Regions from separate parts of the Homo sapiens genome. Here all the other regions are linked to region 2. The links come from fine-mapping of genetic effects on gene expression. A gene starts in region 2. Each other region holds a variant in brackets. All regions are shown on one strand. Distances are from middle to middle. Region 1 holds the start of INSM1 (INSM transcriptional repressor 1). Region 2 holds the start of CFAP61 (cilia and flagella associated protein 61). Region 3 overlaps CFAP61 (cilia and flagella associated protein 61).

Region 1 (8,259 bases), 320 kb after region 2:
TCCCTGGCAGCTTTATGCTAATGCGCCGAACAAAGGCAACGGCCCGCGGGCGGGAGGCCCGGAAGGTGCCTGGGGCCGGGCCGGGCGGGGTGGCGGCCAGGCGGGCTGCGCGTGTCTCTCGCGTGCCCCTGGGACTGACACAACAACCCCTCATTCCTGCAAATACAAAGCCTCTCACCGGCTCGGGTCGGGCGCACCCGGCGCAGGGAGGCGCTGGTCCCTCCGGGCGGCGGGCACTGCAGCGGTAACGCACGGTTCCTGCCGGTTGTGGCTCGGGGGACTGAGGGCCGGGAGTGGGGGCTTCTGTGAAGCCAGAAGAGAAGTCTGCAGCAGAGTGGTGATGAGGGGCGCTGACACCTCACCCCCAACGCCGACGTCTCCAAACGCGATACCCTCTGCGGGGTGAGAATGCGGGCCCGCCCGGCTCCTCCCGTGAGGCCAGGGCCTCCTGTTCTCCTAGACACCCCAAGGAGCCAACTCCTCCGCAGAAGTTCCCCGCTTCTGCTCTTATTTCCAAGCTTCGCGCTTTCTACAAACTCCCTGTTGCCTTGACTTTGATTTCCAGCCGTGGTGAGGGTCAGAGTGAACCCCGGCGCGCTCCCCGACGGCATCCCCGCACACCAGGATAGGAGAAATTGGAGGGCCTGGGGCCTCGGGCTCCGCAGTCGTCGGAGGAAGAACCCACCGCGGGGTCCGCAAGGGAAAGTGAAGAGGCCCGGGATTTTTCCAAAGCGCTGGCCAGGACCCCGAAGGAAGGGGAGGAGTCACCTGAAGCCGGGGAAGGCCCCTTGGGTGCTCTGCCTTGGATCCTTATGTTCACTGACTTTCGCGAAGCCCCCCTGGAGGGGGGCAAATCCGCGCTGTTTCCCCCAACTTAACTTCACGCGGCCCATTCTCCGAATCGCGTGCGCCAAGGCCGGCGTCGGGGGCGCACTGTGATGGCGCTTTGCTCTTCCCAGGCGAAGACAAATATCTCGACCCGATGTCCCCATGCATGCGGGTGCACAGGTTCTGAGAAAATCACGCAGAAGGCGGCTGCGATCCACGGCCCGGGCTGGGCTACACCTGCTTGGAGGTCGCTGGTGTGTGCGTGCGCGCGTGCGCAGCCTAACTCCTTCCAGCCCCGGGTGGTGAAATTAGTTTCCAATACTAGTACCTTTCAAGTTTCCATTTATTTTGACTGTACCCGTCTGAAAGCAGATTTCATTTACGCTAGCAAGACTGGAAGCCACAAATAAAGAAAAAGAAACGGATTCATTGAATCTCAGTATCTCAGTAGCGTTTAATAGATTCCCTTGGCTAAATTCAGAGCCCTGTTTGAATTCACTCACGCAGGAGTTGTTTTGTTTTTTTTGTTGGTAGAGGTGCCGGTTTCCCATCCCCACGGCTTATTTACAATTATGGGTGTTGTTATTTTTAAAGGATTCACAAGGTGACTAACTCTCTGTTATCTGTTGAATGGAAGGAGTGTTACATATGCAAGACCGAATGGGGCAGGCCGAGCCCCCGCCCTATGCTATTCTACAATCCAGATGGGATTCGTGATTAGAAAATAAAATTGGCCAAAGCTGTCTCGGAATCCTTTTCCCACTTCTAATTTCATCAGCACTATTAATCAGAGCTCAAAAGAGCAAGGAAATAACATCAGTTACTTTTAGATAGAAATATGTTTATAAATTTTAGATAAACTCATTTTAAGATTTCTAACTTTTGGGGAGACTAGCACTCACCACAGCATTTTTAAAACTAGGGTGAGACTTTTCAAAATATATTTCACTATATGCATTCTTCCCTTTTCAGTGTGTGAGTTAAAATATTACAAACATAAAATTATCAAATATCTTTCCCTTGATTAACCAACCTGATTAACCCCTTAATTAATTAAGCCTAACAACTGTCCCCATCACAACTTATGACTCATGTGGACTCTATTTTTACATGTTTAATTTCTACGCCAGGGTATTTTCAGAGGGAAAATCCAAAACAATTAAATACCTTCAGTGGAATTAAGCGTAAGTAAAACTCAGCAAAATCTGTCTGGTATACAAAGCTTTGCAGAAAAATGTTTCCTTCTCTTTCAATAAAGTGACATTTTCCTCACAGCATATGACATTTTATGTGGCTTGGCTATTTGTTCCCCAGTGTTGGACGATCAGGGCCACTACGCACTCGTGGGGTTCTCTGCCCTGTCCCCCGAAGATTCTGCCTTTTGTGTTTCCTCGGGGCTGGGCTGGACAGAGGATGGAGGCAGGCGGCCCAGTCTGGGTCCAAACGGAACGGCAGCGGAGGTGGGGGTGGGGGTGGGGGCGGGGGGAATCTTCGCTGTTGTCTCTTCCTGGTGGCACAGGGGAGGCGGCTTGTCCTCTCGGAGGCCTCAGCCTGCCTCAGAGTACAGATTGCCCCCCCTCCCCCCGTCCAGCACGCGTCTCTTTTGCGTCCAGATTGGCCGCGACCGGAGCTCAATAGCAGGAGGTTAATTTCCTTCACAAAGGTGAAGGGGGCACGGCTCCGTGGGGGCTGCGCCCAGACAGGCAGCCCCTTTATTTCGCAGCGCCTTGATTGGAGCCCTTGATTTAGCATCTGATGTCAACCGGCAAACAAAATGCCCGCTCGGAATGAAAATGCATGAGGCCGCGCGGGGAGGAGAAAGCCAACTTCACTGGGGCGCACGAGGCCGACCGCGCGTTTCGGGCTTCGGCCAACTCGACCCGGATTAACCGAGCCTTGGACCACGCGGAAGCTCCGGGCGGCCTGGGTCGGGCCCCGCCAAAGATGCCATTCCCAAGCCTCCAAGAACCCAAAAGTTCAGAAATTCACGTTCCTCTGGGAACCCAGCCCAGCCCGCCCGCGCTCCAATCCCGCGCTTTCGGGAGACTGAGAAGGCCGTGCCAATTCCTTCTCAAACTCGAAAGAAACCTTCTCTAGCCCCGTGGGCGCGCGGAGGCTGCGAGCACAAACATCGCCCTCGGCCACTGCCAGAAGGCCGGGCCCCCTGTCCACACTTGGAACCCCGGGGAACCCTTTTGCTTGGCCTCTTGGGTCCAGCGGCCCATCCGTCCAAGGTCCGGGCGGAGGCCGTCCGGACCCTGCTGCTCTCTCGGATTCTTGTTTATTTCCCAAACACCACGCGGAGCCACTGCGCCTCCGCAACGATCTCCCCCGCACCGCCCCGGCGCGCCCCCGCCCCCACCCAATCAGCGCGCACAACTTCCCCCTCGGCTCCGGCTCGCGGATTGAACCCTCCTGACATATTTGGGGCCATTCTTCTCCTTTGTTGCTATTTTGCTAGCGACCCGCGGGTAATCCCCGCGCGGGAGGGGGGCGTGCATTGTCGCGCTGATGGACGGGCCCATTTGGCGGCTCCGCGCCCCCCGGAGGAGAGACACAAAGCCCAGGCACGTGCGCCTCCCCATAGAGAAGCAGCAGACCGTGAAGGGAGGCGGGGCCGGGCGTGTGCCTGGACCGGGCGGGGCGGCGGCGCCGGGCGGGGCGACCAGGGGCGCGCGCGGGGGCCCCGCGCCCTCAGGTACATCTGCCGCACCTACCGGGCGACCCCCGAGTCCCGGCCCCCTTTTGGCCGCCCCATCGCCCTCCCACCCTGCCAGGCTGAGGAGCTGCGGACGCGCTGATTGGCTCCAGGGGAAGCGGGAGGCGAGAACAATGGCCCCCTCCCCCCGTTAAAAGGGAGCGGCTGCCGGGCCCGGGGACAGGGACGCGCGTGCAGGGCGCAGAGCTGGGCCGAGCCGTCGCCGGCGCCACGCGAGTCCCGCAGCCGCCGCGCCCGGGCAATGGGCCGGGGGCACTGAGGGCCGCCGGGGCCGAGCGCGGAGGGGGGACCGAGCCAGTGCCGTGCCCTCGGGCCGCGCCAACATGCCCCGCGGCTTCCTGGTGAAGCGCAGCAAGAAGTCCACGCCCGTTTC[C/T]TACCGGGTCCGCGGCGGCGAGGACGGCGACCGCGCACTGCTGCTCTCGCCCAGCTGCGGGGGCGCCCGCGCCGAGCCCCCGGCGCCGAGCCCGGTCCCCGGGCCGCTGCCGCCGCCGCCGCCCGCGGAGCGCGCCCATGCAGCGCTCGCCGCCGCGCTTGCCTGCGCGCCTGGGCCGCAGCCACCCCCGCAGGGCCCGCGGGCCGCGCACTTCGGCAACCCCGAGGCTGCGCACCCCGCGCCGCTCTACAGTCCCACGCGGCCCGTGAGCCGCGAGCACGAGAAGCACAAGTACTTCGAACGCAGCTTCAACCTGGGCTCGCCGGTCTCGGCCGAGTCCTTCCCCACGCCCGCCGCGCTGCTCGGAGGGGGCGGCGGCGGCGGCGCGAGCGGAGCTGGCGGAGGCGGCACCTGCGGCGGCGACCCGCTGCTCTTCGCGCCCGCCGAGCTCAAGATGGGCACGGCGTTCTCGGCTGGCGCCGAGGCGGCCCGCGGCCCGGGCCCCGGCCCCCCACTGCCCCCTGCCGCCGCCCTGCGGCCCCCGGGAAAGCGGCCCCCGCCCCCTACCGCCGCGGAGCCGCCCGCCAAGGCAGTCAAGGCCCCGGGCGCCAAGAAGCCCAAGGCCATCCGCAAGCTGCACTTCGAGGACGAGGTGACCACGTCGCCCGTGCTGGGGCTCAAGATCAAGGAGGGCCCGGTGGAGGCGCCGCGGGGCCGCGCGGGGGGCGCGGCGCGGCCGCTGGGCGAGTTCATCTGCCAGCTGTGCAAGGAGGAGTACGCCGACCCGTTCGCGCTGGCGCAGCACAAATGCTCGCGCATCGTGCGTGTGGAGTACCGCTGTCCCGAGTGCGCCAAGGTCTTCAGCTGCCCGGCCAACCTGGCCTCGCACCGCCGCTGGCACAAACCGCGGCCCGCGCCCGCCGCCGCCCGCGCGCCGGAGCCAGAAGCAGCAGCCAGGGCTGAGGCGCGGGAGGCACCCGGCGGCGGCAGCGACCGGGACACGCCGAGCCCCGGCGGCGTGTCCGAGTCGGGCTCCGAGGACGGGCTCTACGAGTGCCATCACTGCGCCAAGAAGTTCCGCCGCCAGGCCTACCTACGCAAGCACCTGCTGGCGCACCACCAGGCGCTGCAGGCCAAGGGCGCGCCGCTAGCGCCCCCGGCCGAGGACCTACTGGCCTTGTACCCCGGGCCCGACGAGAAGGCGCCCCAGGAGGCGGCCGGCGACGGCGAGGGGGCCGGCGTGCTGGGCCTGAGTGCGTCCGCCGAGTGCCACCTGTGCCCAGTGTGCGGAGAGTCGTTCGCCAGCAAGGGCGCTCAGGAGCGCCACCTGCGCCTGCTGCACGCCGCCCAGGTGTTCCCCTGCAAGTACTGCCCGGCCACCTTCTACAGCTCGCCCGGCCTTACGCGGCACATCAACAAGTGCCACCCATCCGAAAACAGACAGGTGATCCTCCTGCAGGTGCCCGTGCGCCCGGCCTGCTAGAGCGCGCCCTCCACCCCGGCCCCCGAACTGTGCCTTCGCTTGGAGACCCACAAAGAGAGTGCGCCCTGCACTCCCCGAACCCGAGTCCGCGCTGGGGGAGCCTCGCCCCCGCCCCCACCGGGTGAAAGTGTCGTCTCCGCTTCTCTCGGTGTGGCGTGACGGTAACCCCATACTCTCCTTTTGACTCCTTTTGGAACCCCCACTTTTACGTTGTGTCCCTCCGCCTCCCCCATGGCGCAACAGGAGTCAGTCTCTTTCTGTACAAGGGAGAAAAGCTGTACGCGTTTGTCTCGTGGTTGGAAGCCTCCCCTTGGCGGGGAGAAGCTTTTTTTCTTGCTAGTATTCGCTGTGTTCATGGTCTAGAAATGCGGTCTGGTCTCGCCTCGCCTACCAATCTCTGCTCTCTATGTATGTAGCGTACGGGTTGTTTTGGGTGAATCTTGAGGAATAAATGCCTTTATATTTCACAGGCTGTAAATTGAACTTCCCACACGATTAGCTTTATTATGGCTTGTGAACTGCTGGAGTCTGGCTTTACCTTTTTGTATGTGAACAAATCAAATTGCTTAAAAAAGAGTTTTCTTTAGTATAGCCACAAATGCCTTGAACTGTTGTCTGGGATTGTTTTGTGGGGGGAGGGAAGGGAGTGTTCCGAAGATGCTGTAGTAACTGCCTCAGTGTTTCACGTAAGACTTTTTGGTTTGATCATCTTTGTTGAGGTAGGACTATCAGTTCCCTCTAAATGTATATGTTGATTTATGAGTAATTGTTATTTATTCTTTATTTATTTATATTAATTATGAAGATTATGATATTATTTGATTGCAGATTTTTTTGGCGCGCTGCCCCCTCCCCACCCTGCCACTCTTGACATTCCACTGTGCGTTTTAGAAGAGAGCCTTTTTCTAAAGGGATCTGCTTAAAGTTTTAACTTTTATACCTATCTGAGTGAATTACAGACAACCTATCATTTATTCTGCTTCGAGGGTCCCCAGGGCCCTTGTACAACCGACAGCTCTTACTTTTAAATGCAATCTCTTTTCTACATACATTATTTTCTTAATTGTTAGCTATTTATAGAAAGCTTCAATAGAACTGTTTCAACTGTATAACTATTTACTATTCAAATAAAATATTTTCAAAGTCAAAGTGTGGTGGCCTGATTTCTGCATCACATGCTTTCAGGACGAATTTAAAATAGAGCTTCTGATGGTTTCTTAAAATGTAACTTTATTTTTTATTAGGAAAAAGGGAACCACCAGGATGGTGGGTTTTCAGAGCTGAACCTCAGCTGCGGAACTCTGCCCTTCTGGCAGCCTGAGGGTATAGCCTTGGTAGCGGCTGGCTGAAACAAGCCTTGTTGGGGTCCTTAGTAATGTGCCAGGAGGCGGGTTAGAATGAAGGCCCTGGGCATCTTTTCAGAGAAATCTAGATCAGTGTCCCTAAGAAGCTGTTCTTTGCACTGCACTTTCATTTAGCAAGTCCTTCATTCCCAAAAATTTGGGGCTCAGGGTGATAGTAATTCCTCAGATAAATAAAGTGGGTAGTTTTTGTTCACGACAAGAAAGGAGAAATGACTTTACCGTCAGATTTGCAAAGCACGGGCAGCAACCCGATTCACATTTGGATGCAATGGGAAGTTAAGCAACTGGGGGCAAGGGCTTAGAAATAATTTTCCAATCAGGTGAGCAGTCTGTTTGGGGGGAAAATGGAACACCATCTGTTTGGGGTATTAAATTTAATAACAGGTAATTACAATGTTTTCCATTATGTGTCACTCAGCTCTTTCAAGAACAATTCTGACTCTCACCAGTGAATATTTTGGGTTGTTTTCCTCTGTCTTGGAAACATCTCATGAAGGAGCTGTGCTAAATCTCACAATTGTGCATGTGTGTGTTCCCTTCCTTTTGTGTGTTTTTGCTGCCTTTTTTTTTTTCCTGAGGTCCGCTAAAGCTAACATTTGCCTGCCAAAGAGATTTTAGAAATCTGCACAGTAAAGGGATTTGCATCTCCAAAGAAGAGCTGGAATGAGGCTGGGAAGGGCAGTCCATGAGGAACTTGGAAGGACAAACTGAGGAAAGAGATCATTTTCAGATTGTGAGCCTCAAGTTTTCTGTGGGACGGGGTTTAGCTAGCAGGCTCAGCTAGCAGGAATGTGGAATATTCCTCCCTTTGTGAGGGTCTGGAAACAGCCTTCGAATAACAATGAAGGAGAAACCTCTACAGGTAAGTTGCCTCCAGGACAAATTGCATGGAGCTTTTTATCACTGATGACTACATATTTTACCAGTTTGGAAAATAAAAGAACAAAAAGCTCAGGGCTGGTACAATAGGAAAGCACAGGGACAGAGCAGCATTTATAACATCCTAAAAACTTTAAACGAAACAAAGAAAAACTCAAATGTGTGGGTTGATGGCTGCTGCTTCTCCCCTCCTGCAACAGTAATACTGGAGAATGGGAGCATTGAAAATATTCTCTCTGAGTTACACCAAACATTAAAAGATACCCCAAACTGAGGGTCAGTGTATGCACGTTCTGTGGCAATAAAGTTTCCTTAAAAACTGGAAGATTGGCCGCACATGGGGAGTCCAGACTCGTCTGCAGGAATGGTAGCTTGTAACTATGTTGGGCTCACTGTGGTTCTCGTCTGTAATCACAAAAACATGAATTCATCTAAGATCCACCTTCATGAGGGTAAATATAATTTGGTTGTTCACAAACATGTTCCTTCATCCCCTGTATAAATTTATTTCAATGGAATAAATGGAACCCGAAACATCTATGTGAGATATTAAATGAAACTGTATAGTAAATGGAGTTGAAGGCAATGAAACAGCGTAGAAATAGAAAAACTT
Region 2 (8,024 bases):
TTATAATGCAATGTGATTTATGTTATAGTCAAGATCTGCACGGGAAACAGAGAGGAAGAAATGAAAATGTTTGGTGGAAAAGGCTAAGTAGTAGGTAATTGTAGAAATGAGAACTTGAGGAACGTTCCGATTTACCAGGAAACTAAGTTTGGTGAGGAGGGGGTGCTCATTCCAGGCAAGGAGAACAGTCAAGCCTCACGATAAGGAGACATGATATATTCAGGGAGTGGCACATACACAGGCACAGTGGGGGAAGGAGGTATGCGGGGAGAATGCAGAAAGCTAGACCACAGGAAGGGCCAGATTGCAATTTTTATTTTTTTTGGCCATTGGTTTTATTTTTTTTGGCCATTGTTTAGCTGAAATTTGTAAAAATCTCAATATATACAAAGCAAATGAAATTGTGCTTCTTTAGCTACAACTGACAAGATCTATCTCTAAAGCCTCTTCTGCCACCCTCCCCAGGACTATTCTACCCCAGTACTCCTGAGGCCCTCAAGGGAACCCTAGGGTTCCATGGAACCAAAGTTGAAAATTTCTACCCGAGGCACAATCTTTTACCTGTGCTTTAACTTTTTCTTCTTTTCTTTTTGGTATCTGTTAATCTATGAATCATTATATACAAAACTACACTCTCAGTAATTTTACCTTTGAATCTCCTTTAGGCTTTCTTCCCATTGTGCGTATTTTATCCAGTTACTAATCACAGTCCTGTTTTTTCTTATATTATCTTCAAAAGTCTGGAAGAAGGCAAAAAGGGTCAAGTCAAAAGACAAATGACTAAAAATGACAGCACCCTTGGTCTATTTTAAGTCTTGTACTAAAATGGTTATTCATTTTGTTCATATTTAAGAGAAATTACATCCTGGAATCCTTGAGGAATAAGAAACCCACTACAGAAGGTTACAGTCAACTAACTGATACTTTAAAATGGTCTATGCTTGTCCCTAATAAAAAATGTTTTTGACTATTACCTTTAAGTCCTCTGGTAATTCTCAGAATTTCATATATAACAGCATTAGTGCTTTAAAACAGTCCCACATTCTAGAGTGAAGAGGTCAAATCAGATCCCAAAGTCTTCTCATGGTCCTTTTGCAGACCTCAATTCCTTTTCCTTTCTTTCTTTCTTTCTTTTTTTTTTTTTGAGACAAAGTCTTGCTCTGTCGCCCAGGCTGGAGTGCAGTGGCACGATCTCGGCTCACTGCAGCCTCTGCCTCCCGAGTTGCTGTGATTCTCATGTCTCAGCCTCCCGAATAGCTGGGATTACAGGCACCTGCCACCACGCCTGGCTAATTTTTGTATTTTAGTAGAGATGGGGTTTCACCATGTTGGCTAGGCTGGTCTCAAACTCCTGACCTCAGGTGATCTGCCCGCCTCGGCCTCCCAAAGTGTTGGGATTACAGGCGCGAGCCACTGTGCCCAGCCAGATCTCAATTCTTAACACAGAAGGTGGTATAGACAGAAGTACACAGTGCAGCCTTACTAAGCATACCCTCCTTCTTGTTGTCAGTTGTTCCATCTGCTAAACTTCCGCTCACTTTGATTCAGCATCAAAAATTATGCAGATTCAATTTCTTTACACTTTAACCAGACAACTCATGGCATATTTTATATAGTTCAGAAAAATGCTGTTATCTGGTAACCAGAAGTACATTATTCATGCGTCTGGAAACACTTAACCTCATCTTGCCCTACAGAATCCAACCAATGAGGAGCTTTTCAAACTGACCGATACAGTCTTAACAATTAGTGGACTGAAAGATACCACACTGACTGACCTTCCTTTTCCTTAGTTTATAATCATTTAATTCTTCTTCATCTGTGATCTTCTGTTGAGGTGGAGGTGGAAGAAGCTCAAGTTCTCTTTCTTTAGCCTCTCTTAAGAGTTGTTCAGCAGTTATCTGTACCTCAGCCGGGGCTTTGTTTTTCACCTTTTAAGAAAGAAGACATTTCTATTTTTAGTAGTTGCTCTTCACACAAGGCTTAAGAAACAAACATACATTTTTTAGGATATGAACTTTGTTAGTATTATCACAAGATGCCCTTTTTGTATGACATGTTCCCATTCCTCCATGAGACTGAAAAGAAAAAAAAAATACCGTTTTCTCTCTTATTCATAGTATCTACTGCAAAGCCATAGGTAAAAGTCTCAAGAGAAAAAGGTGGCAAAAATAATAGCAAGTTTTCCCTTTTAGATGAGTATAATAATAAACTTTGAGGCCGTCTAGGTAAAATTCTGACCAGAGGTTTTGTTTTATCAAAATGTGTAGCACATCTTATTAACAGCATTACAACCTGCATTTACAGAATTCTTCAACTTATTTAATGCCCCGGTGTATAACTGGGTTTGGTTTTACATGGCACTTCAAGTCAAAGGCAATTTCAGTAAGTTCTCATCATTAGACTGTAAGCTTCTTGAGGTCTTAGAAGCTTACAGTCTAACGTAGCTTAGAGCTGTGCTGTCCAACACAGTAGCTATGAGTCACATGTGGTGAGTACAAATTGAGGTGGACTGTAAGTGTAAAATACACATTGGTTTTGAAGATGAAGTATAAAAAAGAATAAACTACCTCATTACATTTTTTATACCGATTACATGTTGAAATGATAATATTTTGGATACATTAGCTCAAATAAAATATATATTATCAAAATTAATTTCACTTTTTTGCTTTGTTTTTACTTTTTAATGTAGATATGAGAAAATTTAAAATTTCATATGTGGTGTGCATTATATTTCCATTGGACCAGTGATGCCCAATAAAAGTTTATGTAGCTGAATTATAAAAAATGTTACTTAATGCCACATGTGGAGTAATGATGATAATGGTGATAGCTCATATTTAATAAGCACTAAGTGCCAGACACAGTGTTACTTGCTCTATATGCATTACTCCTGCGAGTCAGACAAATAGTTATGTAAAGGTCCAGTTCAAGAGAGTCATCCGGGCTCAAGAAAGACTGGAGGGAGGGTATCTGTAAAGGCTTCAAAGTCTGCCACATATTAAGCACTTGGTAAGTATTAGCTATCAAAGGAAATACCAGATAGTAAGTCTACTGTTTAATTAACTTATGATACTATACTACTCCTACCGTCTACTCTCGCCCTCCGCTGTCAGCTGGGCTAACTCCTATTCAGCCTTCAAGTCTCAGCTTAAAGGTCATTTCCTCAGCAAAATTTACTTTCAGGACCCCTTCATACGACCCCCTTATTCACGCCCATGGCATATTCTACTTTGCCTCTCGGTAACATCTAGCAAGGTCGTCTTTATACAGAAACTCGTGTTTTGAGTACTGCTTGTGGCCAGCGTACGAGCGTAGCTTCCCAGCGCCCAGTGCAGTGCCTGGCTCAGTAAATCTTCACCGAACCACCCCACTCCACTCCCCAGCAAAACCACCCCAGAACGAAGGCCACGCCAACGCGGGTCGTGCTCCGCGATGACAAGAGCCCGCGCCCCACCACCAGCTGCCCTTCCTCTCCATCTCTCAGGGTGAGCCTTCTCCCCGGCGGGAACACTCTCTCCCAACCCGGGCACCCTCAGGGCTGAGGGATGCCCCTTTCCTAGGCCACCTCCTACAAGGCCCCTCGCGATCGCCTACCTTGGCCACTTTGGGAATCCGCTGCTTCCCGGCCGCGGTGGAGGCCGCCATGTCTGCAGCAGTCGACCTCTGGACACCTGTCCCCGGCACGGACGCTAGAAATCGGCTCTGAGAGCTCACCGAAACCACAAAGCTTTCAGAAAACAAACAGGATCTCGGAACCGGAAGCGGAACTTGCAGGACTGACCTTTGACCTCTCGCTTGAGCCGTGACGGAGGCGGCACCGTTTCCATGGTGACCAGGCTGCGCGTCCTCCTTGCGGCAGCGCGTGGAGTGCGGCGTCCTGGAGCTGCGGATGAGGTGGGTAACGCCGTGCTGACTAGCAGCGACGCAAGGACTGCGGTGCAGGGCGTCCAGGGCGCATCCCCAGGTCAGCCTCCGGAACTGGGATGACCAGGCGAGGACGAGTGGCTCTGTCGAGCCGTGGCGCCCTGCAAGGGAGTAAGAACGGAGCTCCAATCTGGATGCTCGAGGGCGGGGGAAGAAGGGAGAGCGAGGAAACTACCATTCCCAGCATGCGACGGGGCGAGCTGCCGCCCTTTTAGGCTGCAATGCCTCGAGCATTGCATTCTAGTAGTCTCTGGGTCCACGCCCCCTCGTTTCTGGTTTCGGGACAGTTGTGCCCAAATAATTCTAAGGTGCCCAAATAATTAACTCTAAGGCTTGGAATTAAAAATAACAGAAGGTACTTTGAAGCCAGATATTAGGAAAAAATATAAATAGAGTAACTGGAAAACAACTCAGTCTTGTGATAAGAAACATGTTTAAATTCTGTGTGTGCCTTAATTACTCTAGTTAAATTTTCTTAGCCTCAATGTCCTCAACTATAAAACAAGGCTAATAACATCTGTTTCACTAGGATTAAAGACAAATGCTCAGTAGATGTTAGCTGTTATAATACTTAACCTGCCCTCAAAAACTGAAAAGCAAAGGTTAAGAGAATTTTTTTTAATAGACATTTTTAGAGAAGTTTTAGGTTCACAACAAAATTAAGTGGAAGACACAGAGATTTCCTCCCTCCACAGCTTCCTGCTATCAATTATTGTACCTCTTCCCTCCTCTAACAGCCTCCAACTCTTAAAAATATCCTCCACCAGAGCAGTACATTTGTTACAATCTTGAACCTACATTGACACATCATTATCACCCAAAGTTCATAGTTTATATTAGGGTTCACTCTTGGTGTACATTCTATGAGGTTGGACAAATGTATAATGACATGACTTGGCAGCTCATTTGTTAGGATAATTTCCACAGTTGCAAAGCTCTTTTGGTGTTTGGGGAAAATATATATTTATGTATGTAGTAATATCACGTCTACCAATGCAGATATTACTTTCAACAAAAGATTTATGCAGATTTCTAGAACTGCAGTCAGTTATAACCAACATCAATGTATTTGCCATAACTCTTTATTAACCATATTATTTAGATATTTTATCTCACTTTTCAAAATTTAAATAGAGAAGATTTTATATCACTTTCATAAAGCCACCTAACAAAATAAATAAATATTAAAAAGATGTTTCTTTGAAGTGATTTTCCTTAAATGTGTTACTGTAAACAATTGATTTACCAAATGAATCATTGGTTTAATCATCTGTTGCCTTTGCTCAAAAGTACAAACATGCTAGAATACTTTGCTTCTGATCACCATCCTTCTCTCTTACATTTCTGTTGTCTGGCAATTCAGTTCATCTCTGTGTGTGTTTTTTTTGTTTGTTTTTTTTTTTTTTTTTTTTTAGGAAAAATGTATTATCCTTCTTACTTTTTGCCATCAATGCTTTTGTAGATATACCTTCATGTTTACCTTCTTATTTCCCAGCATTTAATCTTGTATTCCACTTCTTTCTGATTTTATTCTTCTCAGAATATACCATCTCCTAGTTCTTTCTACAAGATTCTTTGAATTCTTTCAGTCTTTGTATGAAATTGTCTTTATTTTATCTTCATTTTAAAGTGATTGTTTAGGTTTATCAGTCTAGGTTAATGGTTATTTTTTCCTTTTATATTTTTAAAACACTATTCTAGTAGTTAGAAAACTATGGGCCGTAGACTAAATTCAGCCCATTGACTATTTTGTATGGACTGTGAATGAGCTAGGGATATATATATATATATATACACACACACATACATACACATATACACACACACATTTTACATTAAACTTTATATGTAGTTTACATTTTAAACATTTTTTAAAAATTACATGGCACATGAAAATTATACATAAGTCAACTTTCAGTGTATGTAAGTAAAATTTTGTGGGAATACATTCATGCTCATTTGTGCCGATATTGTCTCTGGTTGTTACTGTGCTACAATGGCAGAGTTGACTAGTTGTGTAGACAACATGTGGCTCATAAAGCTTAATGTATTTATTCTCTGGCCTTTTACAGAAGTTTGCTAACCCCCGTGCTACTGGCTTCTAATGTTGCTCATGAGAAATATTCTGTCAGTCTAATTATTTTTTATAGACAGTCTGTCTTTTGTCAGGTTCCTTTAAAGTTTTCTGTTTGTCTTTAGGGTTTTGTAGTTTTACTATATATTTGGAGTTTATTTGTATTTTTTGCTCTGAACTGAAGGTTCATGTCTTTCATCCATGCTAAAAGTAATTAGCCATTATTTTCAAATGTTTCATTTATTCCTTTTGGAATTCCCATAAGACAGATGTTTTTCATTCTGTCTTACATGTGTCTTTACTGAATTCTGTATTTTCTGTTTCTATGTGCTTCTTTCTAGATAATTTGTTCATAAGTATCTTCCAGTTTATTTTCTTTATTCTTCTGTTTTTAACCCATCCTCTTAGTTTAAATTTTAATAACCACGTATTTCATTTTTTAAGTTTCTGTTCTTTTTTAAATAATGACCTGTTCTCTTCTCATGACTTTTGTTTCTCTTTCTATATTTCTTTATTATAAACATACTTAGTTTGTAGTCTGTTTCAGAGTCTATCATCTAAAGTTCTTGGTGACTCCCATAATACACAGATTGTGTGGACTAGAATGCCATACCCACTTTAGTCTAGAATTTGGACTTCTCAGCAGTATTTTTGCTTTATTTTCTACCTAGAGCTTTGTGTAGAGAAAGCTTGTCACTTTCTTGGGCTGGTGAGTTTAATTTTTCTAGCCCCCTCACTTACCGAGGGGCCCATCCAAAGTCCCAGGTAGATGCATGGTTTAATTTTTAATTCTCTGTTTGGAGTGAGGTCCATTCTATCCCCAAAACCTGTGTCAGATCGGCTCACATCATTGCCACCTGGTTGGAGAATTTCCCTCGCTCGCTTTCTTTCTTCTTTTCTTGTTTTCTTTTTACCAAAGTCAGTTATCTAATTAATTATACTTCCTTATTTTATTCAGAATTTTTATATACTTGTAGCATTAGTTTATGATATGTTTCACAAACAAGATGTCTCATTCCAATTTTGCTTTCAATTTAAAACCAGAACAAGGAATGACAATATTTATGGTTAGCTTCGATAGGAGTCTAGACATTATTAATTTCTCCTTCATTGTTTTCCCTGTTTTGAGCTCACTGGCTAGTATATAATAAAATGGCTTTCCCTATGAAGGAAAGAAGGGAGGGAAAGAGAGAAGAGAGACTTACAGAAATTGAGACAATGAGAGAGAAATTGAAATCATTTTGTGACCTACTGTTTTTGTCAACAGCATTTCCCAAAGTGTCCTTCTGGAACGTTAGGTTCTCCACTGTTGCCGTCATTAGAGATTCTCTTCCCAAAGAGTGTCGGAAAGGCTGGGTTATACAAAGAAAACAAGTTGCTTTATTATGGAACCTCTCAAAGATGTTAATGGGCCTGGTGGCCCTTCAGGAAGCCTATTGCGAGCATTTCCTACACTTAACCACAGAACTTTTTTGGTCTCAAAATATGTCTCAAGACTGCTGACCTTCAGGGCTCCAGTTTGGAGAACTCTATTAAGAACATAGGCAGCAGCTGTCAGTATTTCCCCAGTAACTCTTCACCACATGCCATCGTGGCCGATTAAATATAAGAGGACCCTGAATCCGTAAATAATTCCTTTCAATGTTTTTCCAATTCTATTGTTAGAATTTTTTAAAGCAGCTTTGTTGGAAACAAAGAATATAGTTGCAGAAACTTCTAAACAGGCCAGTTCTCAGAAACTTCATTCTCCTATGGAGGAACGTCAGCTGGTTTGCAGTGACAGTTGTCACAGACTACACCCAGGGGAAAACGTGTCACACCAGTATTCTCACACCATGTTCACTCTGACCACATGGAAATTGAATTAGTGTTCAGTTTTGTGTGTATTATAACCAAACTGGCTTATCATATCAGATTAATAGTGGACTTTTTTCTCTCTTTTGGGGACAGGATAAAAAATGTCAGTACTCACTTCTCCAAGAGGAAAGGTAGAAGTTGTTCATTGCCGAAGAACAGAATC
Region 3 (8,259 bases), 110 kb after region 2:
CCATATCCTCTAGCACGTATTCTTCCTGAGCACTCTGTGAAGACAAGGACTGCAAGTGCCTGGTCTTTCTTCCATGCCATGTTTGCAGCAGGGCAGGCTGTTTGGGGAAGCAGCCATCAGCCAGTGACTGAAGGGATTGGAGAATCAATTTGCCAGCTCCTTCACCTCTTAGGTGGGACCACTCTGCACTGTGTTCTCTAGGCTTTCGGAGATCCAGGTGGGGTTGATTCACCATAGTCACCCACATCTTGAAACACCCCATGCTGGCAGCCTCCCCTTCCTCACCTCGCATGCCACTCCTCTTACAGAATTTCCTGGCTTTGCTCCCCAAGTAAACTACTGACTCTCAGACACTTAATTCAGGGTGTGTTTCTGGGGCAACCCACACTAGGAGACTCACTGACCAGTTGGTCACTCCCTGTGCCCTAGGGAGGAAAGTCAGGGTGTAGAAGAGGACAGCAGTTTTCTCTCTAATATTCCTAAGAGGGTAGCCGTTCCGTTATGAACCCAAGCAAGGATGTGGTTGGAGGGACAGGATGCCTGCCCCCACCACTGCATCAAACATGGTTGGAACCCCAGAAGACACCTGAGTCAACAAGGTGGATTGATCTCCTATTTTTATCTCCTCTCCCTACCGGAGAAAAACACTGAAATGACAGTAAAGGGATAAAAAGGGCACAAATCCACAAAGGTGAGATGGAGAGGAGATATTGGAAGATAAGCACTTTAAAAATATTGAGAATAAAAAAATCAATGGAAGAGTTTACATTGGCTTAGCACAGCTGAGGAAGGTGAAACTCAGGCATCTTTATGGGAGGAGAGACTGGTGAAAAGTGTGTGAATTCTGCACAAGGCTGAAGACTGGAGGTTTGCAGAAGGTGGGGTGAGGAATTGGGCTGAAAAGCTGGGCAGTCTGATGTGGAGTGACTGGAACACTGGATCCCTGCAGACTCCAGTTAGGTTGTCAGCCACACCCCAAGTGAGAGGATAAAATGACTATTCTCTAGAGAAATTGAACAGAGGCTGCTGCTAATTCAGATTTAGCCTGTGCTGCATGGGCGTTGTAACGGTGAGGAATAGAGAACAGACAAGTAAGTGGAATTCTCCACTTCGAACAGAGGAATCCACAGCCCCTCCTCCAGCCACGCCCTCTCAATGCCAGGAGCCAGGCCTTGTATTAAGTTTCTATTGCTGCTGTTACACATTACCCCAAACTTGGTGGCTTATAACAACACAAATTTATTATTGTGCAGTTCTGGAGGTTAGCATTCCAAAATGGGTTTGAGTGTGCTGAGCTTCAGGTGTAGACAGGGGCGTGTTCCTTCTGGAGACTCTAGGGGAGAATCTGTTCCCTTGCCTTTGCCAGCTTCTAGAAGCCACTTGCATTCCATGCCCTGTGTCCCCTTCCTCCATCTTCAGAGCTGGCAGCGCAGCATCTTCCTCCCTCTGACTCAGACCTGCTGCCTCCCTCTTAGCAGATCCCTATGATTCCTCTGGGCCCACCCGGATCATCTAGGAGCATCTCCTCATCATAGAACCCTTCATGTGATGACATCTGCGAAATCCCTGTGCCCTGAAAGATAACATATTTACAGGTTGCAGGGACTAGTACCTGTAACATCTTTGGGGACCACAGTCCTCAATACAGAATATTGGAGAACTTAAGTCCCAAAAAACTGACAGGCCCAAGGAAAATGCCTTCAGATGATGTCACTGAAGGTGGCCACCCAGTAATAATGCCAGATCTCTGCCTGATCACCCCATGAAGTGCCCCAGTTAGCCAGTGTCTGTGGAGTTTTGCCTCTCAAGCATGTTGCTTTTAGGAAGCTAAAAATGTGCTCTAACGATATGAGGGCCTAAATGATGAACAAAAAAGACAAAGAAAAGACCTGGAACTTACAAAATAGGAGCTGCAATACAGGCAGGACGGCAGAGCTGCAAGTCCAGATTAGAGGGGAGAAAAAAGGAAGCTCATATATTATCTCAAACGCCTGATCATTTGGAAAATAATAGTGACCAACACTTGGCAAATCTGATAAAGGAAGTGAAAAACTTAGCAAACCAAGTGAATAAAAACTAAGCACACAGATGAAAACATTGTCATATTACACTACTTTGCTCAGCAACAACAGAACTTACACATTCATATTAGTGTAAATACTTACGGATTTAACCCTGAATTGTGATGTAATTTTCCTGGGGGATAAGATGTGGGGAAGAGGGTAGTATGAGAGGGATTAATCTAGCCACTGCATCAATATTGAATAGGAAATTCTAAAAACTAATGAATTTAGAAACAGCACCATAAGCATATTGTTCAGAAATATAGAGGTAAATATATACCCAAATAAATGAAAACGTTGAAAGTTCTGTTCAATGGGGGTAGAGACTTGGAAGGACAGAGAACTGCTGATTTTCTTAATAAATGTTTGGTGCTAATATTATTTTAAATTTTTCCATATGCATGTATTACTTTGATTTAAAAGAACTCCATGAGGGATCTCAAAGGGAATCATCTTCTGAGTTATGACACCTTTTTAGGTGCACCTAAACCAAGACAGAACAGCCTCAGCCCTGACTTTCCAGGTGGCTGTGGTCCACTGGACCTTCCTGGGCTCCACCTCCCCACGATAGTTACTCCCAGGACCACCTGAGCAGTCCCAAGATTCAAAAATTCTTGTATCACAATGAAAACAGCTTTGGGGACAGAGGGATTTTGCTTCTGGAGTTATTATAATATGTATATAATACTATCACGCTCTAATCTCTACCCTGGGATGCAGTTAAAATATGGACCCTATGTCAAAGGCCAACTGAAACTATTTGTCTTGTGTGAGACCTTCATGTGAGAACTAGTTTTTTTTTTCTTTATTATTATTATTTTTTAAATTTTATTTTACGTTCTGGGATATGTGTGCAGAACGTGCAGGTTTGTTACCTAGGTATACATGTGCCATGGTGGTTTGCGGCACCTATCAACCCGTCATCTAGGTTTTAAGCCCTGCCTGCATTAGGTGTTTGTCTTAATGCTCTCCCTCCCTTTCCCCCCGACCCCCCTGACAGGCCCCAGTGTGTGTTGTTCCCCTCCCTGTGTCCATGTGTTCTCATTGGAGAACTAGTTTTTAAAAACATTTTATGAATTTTGAGTATCTCATTAAGAACCTCTCCTTAAAACCAGGCCTGGCCCAGGATGAGTTGTTTCGGGTGACAGTCACACCTGTCCTCAGAACGGTGTCATGTAGAGATAATGCAGCCACCAGCCCACTAAATTACAGGGCATTGACAGGATTCTCATTGGCTCCTCCTGTCTCCTTGCTCTAGGACATAGAAAAACTCAGTGACATCTCCACTGGATATGCACAGTATCACCATGTCAGCAGTAGGAGCTTGGCATCGCTC[G/A]TACTGCCTGAAGAGCCCGTCCACTTCCGCCCCATCTACAGGGGAGCCTCAGCTGCTTTTTGTATTCAGCTGTTTTGTATTGATGAGAAATATGAAGCAAGGCAAGTACTGACCTTCTGGCTGGCTGTCACAGTGAGAATCTTTTCTGGCATTGGTGGCCCAACATTTTAACTTTACAGAGCCAGTAATTTCCAAACCTGGCCCACATCCTAATCTCCTGGGGAATTTTTTAAAACACAAATTCCTAAGCCCCATCCAGAGATTCTAGTCCATCAAATTTTAACAAGGCCTACAGAAGTGGGCTAGAAATCTGGCCTACCTATGTAACAATTGGGAATCTGGAAAATTATCACTTACATAACCACATGCTGCTCCCATTCTGTAAAGTTTGCATCTCTTGGATAATTTGAATTTGGGTTACTGGTTGTCTAGAGTCTTTGGTTGCAAGTAACAGGAAATCCAACCAAACTGGCTTTGAAAAAAAAATTGAATAATTGCCTCACATAACTAAGGATAACTCTGGTGGTGAGACTGTTTTAAATATGGCTTGATCTAGGATTTATTTAGATTACCAAATCAAGGACCAAGTTTCTCTCTCTACCTCTTCACCCTGTGTGTTAGTCTGTTTTCATGCTGGTGATAAAGACATACTCAAGACTGGGTGATTTATAAAGAAAAAGAGGTTTAATGAACTCACAGTTCCACGTGGCTGGGGAGGCCTCACGATCATAGGGGAAGATGAAAGCCATGTCTTACATGGCGGCAGGCAAAGAGACAATGAGAGCCAAGTGAAAGGGGTTTCCCCTTATAAAACCATGAGATTTCATGAGACTTATTCAATACCACAAGAACAGTATGGGGGAACCACCCCCATGATTCAGTTATCTCCCACAGGGTCCCTCCCACAACACGTGGGAATTATGGGAGCTACAATTCAAGATGAGATTTGGGTGGGGACACAGCCAAACCATATCACCCTACTTCCCTGCTGTTGGACCCCTTCTCAGAGGAGTGCCCCATCCTGGGCCTAAGACCACTGACATTCTCAGGTCTCAGGTCTGCATCAGAATCCAGTGAGAAGGACTTGCCGGGATGGGCCCAGCTTTTTCCAGCCAAAGTCTCATGAGGCCTGACAGGACTGTGTGTTCATTCCTGAGCCAACGGCTGTGACAAGCCCATGCCACAAGGAGATGGAGAAGATGGGCTCCATCCCTTAGCTCATGCTCCATGCCAAATCTGCAGCTGGAGTCTCAGCTACATGGAATATCTGAGCAGGGGATAAGTTGACACCCAACAGCAATCCAGGGCTACAGCAAAGAGGAGGCATGCATGGTGCTGGGCTTTGTCTAAAGCCCCGGCGCCCACCAGACCTCACAGCCACCCACCCTGCCCCTCCAGAACACCCACATGTTCAGTGCTTGCTGTTCTCCTGTGGTCTGGACACTGGACGCTGCCCTCAGTGCCTGGATTCCACATCTCCTTAGCACCCACCCCTCATCTGTTCACAGAACCATCTCGAAGAGGAAATAATTGGCCCATTTTGATGGAGTGGAAGGCTCTAGGGTGTCTTTTAGATGAGCAAGAATAGCTGGACAGTTCCTCTTCAGAGGATCTGTTTAAACATGTTCCCAGTCTCCCAGCATCCCCTGTTGTACTTTAACTTTTTTCATCTCGAGTTTTTAGCTTCTATGGAGATCTGGGACATTGAAAAGAAATTCTTTTTATTCTAATTATGTTGTAGACATATAAAACCTTGTAAAGCCTTTCTATATTTGTTGCTTTATATTTCTTTTATCTGTACATTTAAATATGATTGTGCTTAGAGTATACTTTTTGAATTTTGAAACAGGAATTTGATGACCCAGTGTGGTTTGCCTATGAATGTACATCTACAGCTAGTCAGAAAATCTTCAACAGATAAAAGGGAAACAGATCAGAAGCAACCTATAATATTTCCCACCTCTCCTCTTAACTCTTCCAAAACAGAAGGGAAGGATCGGAGGCACAGAATGACCAATTTTGTGTTGGCTTTTCAAATGCACAGAGATTGTTAATTGATGTGAAAGTGCCTTCAGTTCTGCAGAATACTTTATTACTGACATACGAAGCTTGCGACTTATGCACCCCATTAGTGTTCACCTAGACACACATTCTGACTAGTGGTTGGCTAATCGCTGCCCGAGGGGAGGGAGCTGTAAATCTCTGTAAACGTCCACTGATGTTGCATTTGCTTGCAGGGCACTGACAGTGCTTACTGTCTTGTTTACAGGTCGCTGGATTTTATGAATTTTGTTTTCAGTCTTTTTTCTGTAAGTACATGCTGAATTTTGAGAACTGATTTTGTAAGCTTAGAGAACTTATAGAAAAGTAAAATGCCATAAATTTATTATGCTGTGAATGTTGAGGTTTGTGTTCGGAGAATAAGGTCAAATGGCATGTCATGAGCTCATAAAAATACAAAATATTGTCATTTTCAAGAATTTTTAAGTCATGCTATTTTAGCAGTTCTCTTTAAATGCAAAATTTCTGTTACACATAGCTTTACCAGTGTTTTATCAGAATCAAATCATTCATAGTAATACATGAAAATGTTGGAAATTAAAGTGAATGACACTGTTATTTTATAGATTATGTTGGCTCCAAGTATTCTGAAACCATCATATTGCTTTTCTGAGGGTAGCAAAGTAGGGACTTGTTGATTTTGAGGTTGGCATTTCTTTCCCTACTAGTTCCTCAGGCCTGACTTCATGCCTGGCTGGTAGAGGGGGCTCAACCCACATTGATGAATGGGCCTGCAGGCTAATATCCAAGTACAAATAAGATTCTCCATGCCAGGGTGTCCCGGGCTTCTGCCTACATTCTTGTCTCATTATTTTCTAGGGATGAAGATCTAACCAAACTCTTACACTTCTTTATTGAAGGAAAGAAAATGAGGAAGGAAGTTTTGAGGGACAAAATGCATTTTTATAAAGACAGGCCTGTTAATTAAGTAAAGTCAACAACTGTACTTCTCCAGTTGACTGATTTCAAGAAAAGTATCTATTGCTTTACTTTTCCTGGATACTGTTTCTAATGAGGCAAAAACAAGTATAGTTTAATTATTTTGTCTTACAACTATGTGATGTTAGGTTTTATTTCCTCATTTGTTATTATAATGAAGCTTTATAATAAGGCAATATGTTCTCCATCATAATTTTTAAAAATTACTTATTAAGGCACTTTCCAAACAATGTAGATTACCCTGAACATAGGATTTACAAAGTCGGTTTCCCTCAAAAACTCCTCAAATAAATTTCACTAATTTTAATTATTTTCTACTTTAACGTCCATGTAAACGTAAATATTTAACATTATAAAAGTAATGCTGGCTTTAAAAAGGTAAAAGAGCTGTTTACATTTCAATTCTATTTGACTTCGGAACATGGACGACAGGAAAAAAAATAACCTTGGTTGCTTCATCCTTAATCCTTCAAATCCAAGATGAAGCAACTCATTATAGTTAGTCTCTCCCTCCCAGAGGAAGCCCACCCAGACTTGGCACCCAGTCCTTATTTTCAACTTGAGTATTTCAGCAACTTGACTCTCAGGTTCCCCAAAAGGAGTCCTACTAATTTGCTAAAAAGAAGGAAGGTAAGGTCAGACAATGGTTCACTCCTTTGAGTTGCACAAATGTCCCCAGGGTTTTGGATTAGCACAAGTAATGCCTTCACAGGGTTCAAGAGGAGGCGAGATCCCAAAGGGACAAATTAGCTTCGGGAAGAGCAGGCTGCTTCTGCAGGGACCTGGCAGAGGATCAGGCAGCTGCGTGAAGCTCAGATAGCCTAGAGCAGCACTGTCCAGACATGGAGTGTGAGCCACATTGGTAATTCTGAATGTTCCAAGAGCCACAAGGAAAAAAAAGAAAAAGGAACAGATGAAGTTTATATGATAATATCTTTTATTTAACTTAATATGCCCAATCCTTTTTTTAAAGAGATAGGGTCTCACTTTGTTGCATGCAATGTCACAATCATAGCTCACTGCTGCCTCAAACTCCTTGGCCCAAGGGATCTTCCTGCCTCAGCCTCCCAAATAGCTGGGACATGCCACCATGCCCAGCTAATTAAAAAAAAAATTGTAGAAATGGGGTCTTGTCATCTTGCCCAGGCTGGGCTCGAACTCCTGGGCTCAAGTGATCCTCCCATCTCGGCCTCCCAAAGTACTGGGATTACAGAAGTGAGAACTGTGCCTGGGCAAATTTAATCATTTCAACATATAATCAATATGAAAACTTATTAATGAGCTATTTACAATCTTTTTCTCGTACTGAGTCTTTGAAATCTAATATATATTTCACATTTATAGTACATCACAATACAAGTACTAAATTTTCATCAGAAATAGTTCATCTGTATTTGTATGTTATAAAATTTACAGTTGGATACGTAGATTCACATAATCCAAGCACACATAAAACTTTTCCAGTAATGGAATTAAGTATCCATTTTTTTAATTTAAATGAATTTAAATGAAATAAAATTTAAAATTTAGTTCCTCCGCCAATACTAGCCACATTTCATTGTCTACTGTACTGACAGGGCAGGCCTAGAATAGAATGAATGGCAGCCCTCAGGACATGCAAGACCTCTTATGTCTGCTAACTAAACCCACTGCCTGGGTTTAATCATGCTCATGGATCTGTTCACCCAACTGGGATCACGTCATGATAAAATACGTACACATTGGTTTATGGATAATCACAGAATTTTAGAGCCAAAAAATGCCTGAAGTATCATCCTCCCATCTCGCAAGAGGAAGGGACCACTGGTGTAAGGTCACTTAGTAAGCAAGGGGCCTTTGCTAGGACACCATGCTACCTCA

The links. PIP is the estimated chance that this variant, and not a neighbour inherited with it, causes the effect.
Region 1: its variant is fine-mapped to the expression of CFAP61 in prefrontal cortex (CommonMind, PIP 0.95).
Region 3: its variant is fine-mapped to the expression of CFAP61 in nasal epithelium (TOPMed, PIP 0.99).

What each region holds. Positions count from the first base shown.
Region 1 is chr20:20,364,398-20,372,656 of GRCh38, forward strand. INSM1 (INSM transcriptional repressor 1) reads left to right here and starts at 3,707. Exons shown (of 1, transcript NM_002196.3): 1 at 3,707-6,552. The coding sequence starts at 3,871. The coding sequence ends at 5,403. RefSeq lists an enhancer at 2,800-3,570. The variant C/T (reference allele first, on the strand shown) is at 3,921.
Region 2 is chr20:20,048,692-20,056,715 of GRCh38, forward strand. CFAP61 (cilia and flagella associated protein 61) reads left to right here and starts at 3,841. Exons shown (of 27, transcript NM_015585.4): 1 at 3,841-3,900; 2 at 7,927-8,024. The coding sequence starts at 7,963. It overlaps CRNKL1 (crooked neck pre-mRNA splicing factor 1), which reads right to left and starts at 3,775. Exons shown (of 14, transcript NM_001278628.2): 1 at 3,601-3,775; 2 at 1,779-1,931; 3 at 649-740. The coding sequence starts at 3,651. RefSeq lists enhancers at 3,630-3,799, 3,810-4,109 and a silencer at 4,200-4,249.
Region 3 is chr20:20,160,729-20,168,987 of GRCh38, forward strand. CFAP61 (cilia and flagella associated protein 61) reads left to right here. Exons shown (of 27, transcript NM_015585.4): 11 at 3,322-3,500; 12 at 5,669-5,708. Among named protein-coding and RNA genes, the nearest start is that of CFAP61-AS1, 100 kb to the right of the region's middle. RefSeq lists a silencer at 4,671-4,836. The variant G/A (reference allele first, on the strand shown) is at 3,400.